2 separate regions of the Homo sapiens genome follow, and region 2 is linked to region 1. Evidence: fine-mapped expression QTL. A gene starts in region 1. The other region holds a variant in brackets. All regions are shown on one strand. Distances are from middle to middle. Region 1 holds the start of DPP7 (dipeptidyl peptidase 7). Region 2 holds the start of SAPCD2 (suppressor APC domain containing 2).

The links. PIP is the estimated chance that this variant, and not a neighbour inherited with it, causes the effect.
Region 2: its variant is fine-mapped to the expression of DPP7 in whole blood (INTERVAL, PIP above 0.99).

What each region holds. Positions count from the first base shown.
Region 1 is chr9:137,113,606-137,116,492 of GRCh38, forward strand. It overlaps DPP7 (dipeptidyl peptidase 7), which reads right to left and starts at 1,128. Exons shown (of 13, transcript NM_013379.3): 1 at 1,042-1,128; 2 at 858-971; 3 at 638-777; 4 at 260-423. The coding sequence starts at 1,108. LOC124902314 (a long non-coding RNA gene) reads left to right here and starts at 1,194. Exons shown (of 2, transcript XR_007061874.1): 1 at 1,194-2,887. RefSeq lists silencers at 824-973, 1,004-1,353.
Region 2 is chr9:137,069,317-137,072,203 of GRCh38, forward strand. SAPCD2 (suppressor APC domain containing 2) reads right to left here and starts at 1,241. Exons shown (of 6, transcript NM_178448.4): 1 at 574-1,241. The coding sequence starts at 1,144. RefSeq lists silencers at 569-618, 669-718, 889-1,298 and an enhancer at 1,403-2,382. The variant T/TG (reference allele first, on the strand shown) is at 1,615.

The DNA.
Region 1 (2,887 bases):
AAATTCCAACCCTGGGCCAGGTGCGGGTGCAGCTCTCACTGGGAAAGGCCGCTAGTGTGGCCGCACATCCAAGCTGAGCAGGTGGCTGGGAGGACAGGTGGGAGGGCTTCCTGGGGGAGGCAACACTAAGCCTGGAACCACTGCCTGAGGCCTTACGAAAAGGCAGCGGTGGGAGTCAGAGGGGAGTGGGGAGAAGGGCTGGGGGCGCTGGGTCGGGGCAGGGGAGGGAGGGGGTGCGGAGGCCGGGGGAGGCGCCCACCTTCCACCGAAGGCGATGGCGGGGGCATCCTGGGCCCCGAGGTCGCGTCGTAGCGCGCGGAGCAGCTCTGCGAAGTCGGCCAGGGCCTGCTCCACCGTCAGCAGCTCCGTGTGCCCGCGCTGCGTGGACTGCGCACCGAACGGCAGCGACTTCCCGTAGTAGCGCTGGGGGAACGTGCCATTGAGCCCGGCCCCGCGACCCCGCCCGGCACCCGCGTGCCCCGCGACCCCCGCCCGCGACCCCGCCCGGCACCCGCGTGCCCCGCGACCCCCGCCCGCGACCCCGCCCGGCACCCGCGTGCCCCGCGACCCCCGCCCGCGACCCCGCCCGGCACCCACGTGCCCCGCGACCCCGCCCGCGACCCCGCCCGGCACCCACGTGCTCCGCGAAGACCAGTAGAGCCCCCCGCTCGGCCGCCAGCTCCGCGACGAAGGCCGAGTTGTTGGCGAAGGCCCACACGTCGCCCTCGTTCCCAGTGTAGAAGAAGATGGGCCCCTCGCCCCGGACCCAGAACCTGTCTGTGGGGAGGGCGGATGAGGCGAGGGTGCCGGGGGGCGGCGGGACGGCGGGGGCGGCCGGGCCGGGGCCGGGGTCTCACCCGACACCAGGAAGCGCTGAGGGAAGGTCTTGTTGCCGAAGCGCTCGAAGTTGAAGTGGTCCAGACGCTGCTGGAAGAAGCGCTCCTGGAAGCCGGGGTCCGGGGCCCTGCGGGCTGTGGGGGGACGCGAACCTCAGAGGCGGGGCCGGGACCGGGGAATGGGCCGGGGGGCGCCGCCACTCACCCCCCGCCTGGAGGCCGCGCAGCCCGAGCGCCAGCAGCAGGACCGGGGCCCAGGGAGCGGAGCCCATGTCGCCTTCCGCGGGCGCCCGTCACGTGGGCGGGGTCACGGGGCCGCCAGGGCGCGCTCCTCCCTCCAGGCCCCACGTGTTTCGGGCGCCCGCGGTCCCCACGGAGACCGTCGCTGCTTCAGCGCCGCGCCGGGGCTGTGCCCCCCAACACCCCGCGCCCCGCGGCCGCTGCCCAGGGGTCCTTCCCGGGCACGGCGCGGGGAAGCAGAGGGCCCCCGGGCCATCTCCGCGGCCTCCCGCCCCACTGGCTCGTCCTCCTACCGCGGCCCCATCCGGAGCTGCGCTAGGGCGAGTCCCTGCTGCGCCCGCCAAGCCTCCCCAGCACTTGCTCCTGGCAGGTGCCCCACTCCAAGGCAGGGCCGGGAGAGTGGGGGCCGTTCTGCTGCCCTAAGGGCGGGAGGGAGAGGGTCCCAAACAGAGTGCTGGCCCCCCGAAGAAAGCAACCCAGGGTTTGTCCAAGCGATAACGGGCTGGGCTTGGCGGGGCGGGGCCTCGCAGCGGGCAGGAGTGTGGGGTGCCCCTGGAGCGTCTGGGCAGGGCCGGGATGTGGCCGGGTAGCTCCCAAGAGCTGGGAATCGCCACCTGCCCTTCCGACTGGCACCCAGTGTGCCCACACAGCCCTGCAGGGACAAGGGGGGACCAGAGGCCTCTGCTGGGAGCTGGGGCCTCCTCCCTGGGGAGCACCCAGAGGATGGAAGAAGTCACCTTTCCCCAGCGTCCAGTTCAGGGAGTGGGTGAGGGGGCCGTAGTGGTGGGTGCCAGACTAGCTACGTGGAGTCCTGCTGGGGATGTACATGGGCCGCTAGCCAGGCCCAGAACAGGTGCAGGGGCAGCAGGGGCTCAGCTACAGAGAGTTACCCTGTCCTTCTCCCAAGACTACCCTCGGCCAGCATGACCCTGCCCTGCCCATCCTGTGTGGGGCTGAGCGGAGAAGACCGGCCACTTCCACAGCCCCTCACGCCATGGCCCTCCCGTGCCTCACACAGAGGCACCCCCCATGGTGGGTGACTGGTGGCTGGGGCCCTCAGCATGGTGGCAGTGACCATCACGTCACACTGCAACACGAGGTCATCCAGGGCCACACACCGTCCCCACCACGGCCCTCACATCTGGGCCCTGTCCCATCCCTACGCAGTTCCTGGGGCTGCCTGCCGGGGCCCCCGCAGGACGGGGGTGAGGACAAACAGCAGACCTCCTTGGATGTGGAGGTACCCCACGGCGTCCCCCACCCCACACCTCTGCTCCTTTGGCTCCCTCGGGTGCCTTAGGTGGCCAGAACTCCACCAGCAACCCTCACCCAGGACCGCAGCTCTGGAGACGCCAGCTAGGCCGAGAGCTGGCCAGCTCCCCAAGCACACCAGAGCCTGGAGACGCTCCAGGCTTGGCTGGGCCCACAGAGGGGCCAGAGCCTCAGGGAGGGCTCCAGGAGCAGGGTTTCCAAGGAAGCCACTTTCCCTCTTGTCCACGGCCCAGGCATTGATGCCCCTCTGGGCAGCAGCCAGGGCCTCCCAAGCCGGGAAGGGTGGGCATGGGGCTACCCAGCATGGCTCTGCCAGGGGTGAGGGTGGCCACAGTCCCCTGCCCACATCCCTGTGCCCACAGAAACATATGCTGTATGGAATCAAGGTTTAAGGCATCTAGGCCTGTGCTGGTAACCTGTAACCTTAGCCCCATCCCTGTGCCCACAGAAACATGTGCTGTATTGACTCAAGGTTTAGGGGATTTAGGGCTGTGCAGGATGTGCTTTGTTAACAATGTGTTTGCAGGCAGTATGCTTGG
Region 2 (2,887 bases), 44 kb before region 1:
CTGGGGTGCAGGAGATCCACCCACGCCCCTGCCCATCTTGGCAACAGGGCCAGGTCCTCTTGGGCCACCAGCAGCAGCCCCCGCCTGCCTAGGCCTCAGTGGGGTCAGTGGGCCCAGCCCCCCTGGCTAAGCTGTCACACTGAGAAGGGGGACCCTTTCTTTGAGAAGGAAGCACTTCTGCCTGAGCAGCCACAGACAGGAGGCTGAGGGCCCAGGTGTCCCCAGGTGCGGAAAGGGTATTGGAGATGGAGAGCCCAAGCTCAGGCTTGGTACAGGTTGGGCTCCCGGTGGGTTTTCTGAGTCACCTGCCACCCCCCGGCCCTGGTGGCCTTATGCTGTGGCAGGAGAGGGTCTGGCTTGCCTCCCTAAGCAAGCCCCTGGGCTCACCGCGACAAGCATGAAGCCCTTTCCCTCCAGACCCGCCGAGGCGCCCTCCAGGATCCGGAGTCCACGAAGAGCCGCTCCCCGGTCCCGTCCCTTGTGGGAAATGCACGGGCAGCAGCTGTGGGACTGCGGTTTCTGGCCCGGGCCCGGGAGAGCTACGAGGGTGCCCGGGGGCCGTCCGGAACTCACCTGCGTCCGCGCTGGAGCTCGGTTCCAGCGCCGCGCTCTGGGACCGCTCGGGCTCCGCGGGGCAGGGCGCCGCCTCAGCCGGGGCGCACAGCTGCTCCGGGCTGCGGGCGGCGGCGCTGGGACCGGCCAGAGGGGCGCGCACGCCCAGGGGCAGGGGCTTCCTCTCCAGGACCGTCCGCGGCTCGTCGGCCGGAGCGAACACCAGGCGCTGCGGCGGCGGCGGCGGCTGATCCCCGGGCCGGGCCGGGGCGCGCGTGGGGTCCCGGGGGCCGCCGTCGGCGCTCAGCAGGGAGGTGCGCAGGCCGGCCACGAAGCGCTCGAAGGTCAGGTAGCCGCTGGCCGGGGCCACCTGGCGCAAGCCCTCCAGCACCCCGCGGGGCAGCTCCCGCGCGTCGGTGCCCTGCCAGCGGGACTCGATCTCGCGCAGGTGCACGCAGCCGCGCCGCCGGTCGTCCAGGATGTCGAACAGGGTGCGCAGGCTCTGCAGGAAGGCGCGCGGCAGCCCCTCCGTGCTGGGCGCGGGTGCGGGGGGAGGCACGCGGCCCCGCTCGGCCATGGCGGCCCCGGCCATGGGCGCCCGGGATCGGTCCCCTCGTCCACCCGCGTGCGTCCCAGCGCGGCCCCACGGAGGGGCCGGCCCGGCGAGCTCAGCCCACGGCGACAATAGCGACTACTTTTGAATGGGGCCCTCCTCGCGGCGTCAGCCCTCATTAACATGCGCCGCGGCCATTGGCCGAGCCCGTCCCATCTGCTCTCTGATAGGCTGAGAGGAGGTTTGATTTTTTTTTTTTTTTTCTTGCCGAGTGGCCCTGGGAGGCGCGCGGAGGCCCTGGGCAGGCGGAACCGGATCCCCCAGCTCCTGCTCCACTCTGGCCTCGCAGACCTTCCTTTCTGCCCCGCCCCAGCCCCACCAAACCTCCTGCCGCGGCCAGGCGCTTTCTCGGATCCAGCTGTGGCTGGCTGCCCCGGCCACCTCTCCAAGGGGCGGGGCCTGGCACCCTACAAAAAAACCTGTCTCCAGGTAGCCTCGTGGGGTAAGAA[T/TG]GGGGGGGGGCACCCCCTCCAAAGATCCCACTTTTCCCCTCTAGTTCCCTGGCCGCAAGCACAGGTGACCCTGCGGCCCCCTTCTCTTCCACCAGGAGGGCCCCAAGAGGATCGTAGGCTCCAGCCAGCTGGGCGCTTCCCACTCACAGAGGCCTTTCTGTCCCCACTGCTGCTGGCTCCTCCTCTGGTCCCTCGGGACAGTCTGGCCTGGCCTGCCTGCTGCAGAACAAAGCCACTTTCTCCTGTGTCCCCAGATCCCCATCTAGTGACCAGCTCCCTCTGCCTCTTGCTCTCCTCTCCTCCTTCCCCTGGCTGGACACCTCCTCCAGCTGCTCTCCTGGCTCCCGCAGCCCTGTCCCCCTGCCTCTGCTGTGTTTCCAGCTGGGATCTGGTCACTCTGTCTTCATTTGGTCTGTCCACATGGGAGGTGAGACCAGGCCTTAGCCTGGGTTCTAGCCCTGGGAGCCCATCTCAGGGCTGGCCAGTAGTACCCTCTAGGTTCCAGGGAGGTGTTCAGGGTGCAAACACCCTCCCCAGACAGGCCCCCAATCCGAGACTTGCCTTGGCCCTCTGCGGGTCTCCCACCCTCCCTCCTGGGCAGGCCTCAGCTGGCATACCTACCTGGGTCTCTGTCCTCAGGCCTGAGCCACTGGTGCCTGTGTCTCAAGCTGTAGAGGCATCTTCCCAGGCCAGGGAGTATCCTGGGTCCACTTCTCTTCTGGGTCACTCACTCTAAGTGGGACTCCTTCATCGTAGGGAATGCTGGAAGGACATAAGAAGCTCTGAGCCTGGAGCAGCCCATCAGAGCTTGGTCCTGTAAGCCAGCTTCCCCTTTAATGGCTGGTCTGCTCAAAAACCCAGCACGAGGCCGAGGCGGGAGGATCACTTGAGCTGGGGAGTTCAAGACCAGCCTGGGCAACATAAGGCAACCCTATTTCTACAAAAAGTTTAAAAAATTAGCCAGGCGTGGTGGTGCATGCCTGTGGTCCCAGGTATTTGGGAGGCTGAGGTGGGAGGATCCCTTGAACCCAAGAGGTTGAGGCTGCAGTGAGCTGTGATTGAGCCACTGCTCTCCATCCTGGGTGACAGAGCGAGATCTTGTCTCAAAAACAAAACAAAACAAAACAAACCAGCACAACACGCAAGCCCCCGCCCCCCCATCCCCACACCTACCCTGCTTCCAGCACACCCCTCACCGCCAGTGCCAGGCCTGGGGTCCCTGCACTCCCTCACTTCCAGGCCCCTGTGCCTGGTGGCTCTTCTACCAGGAAGG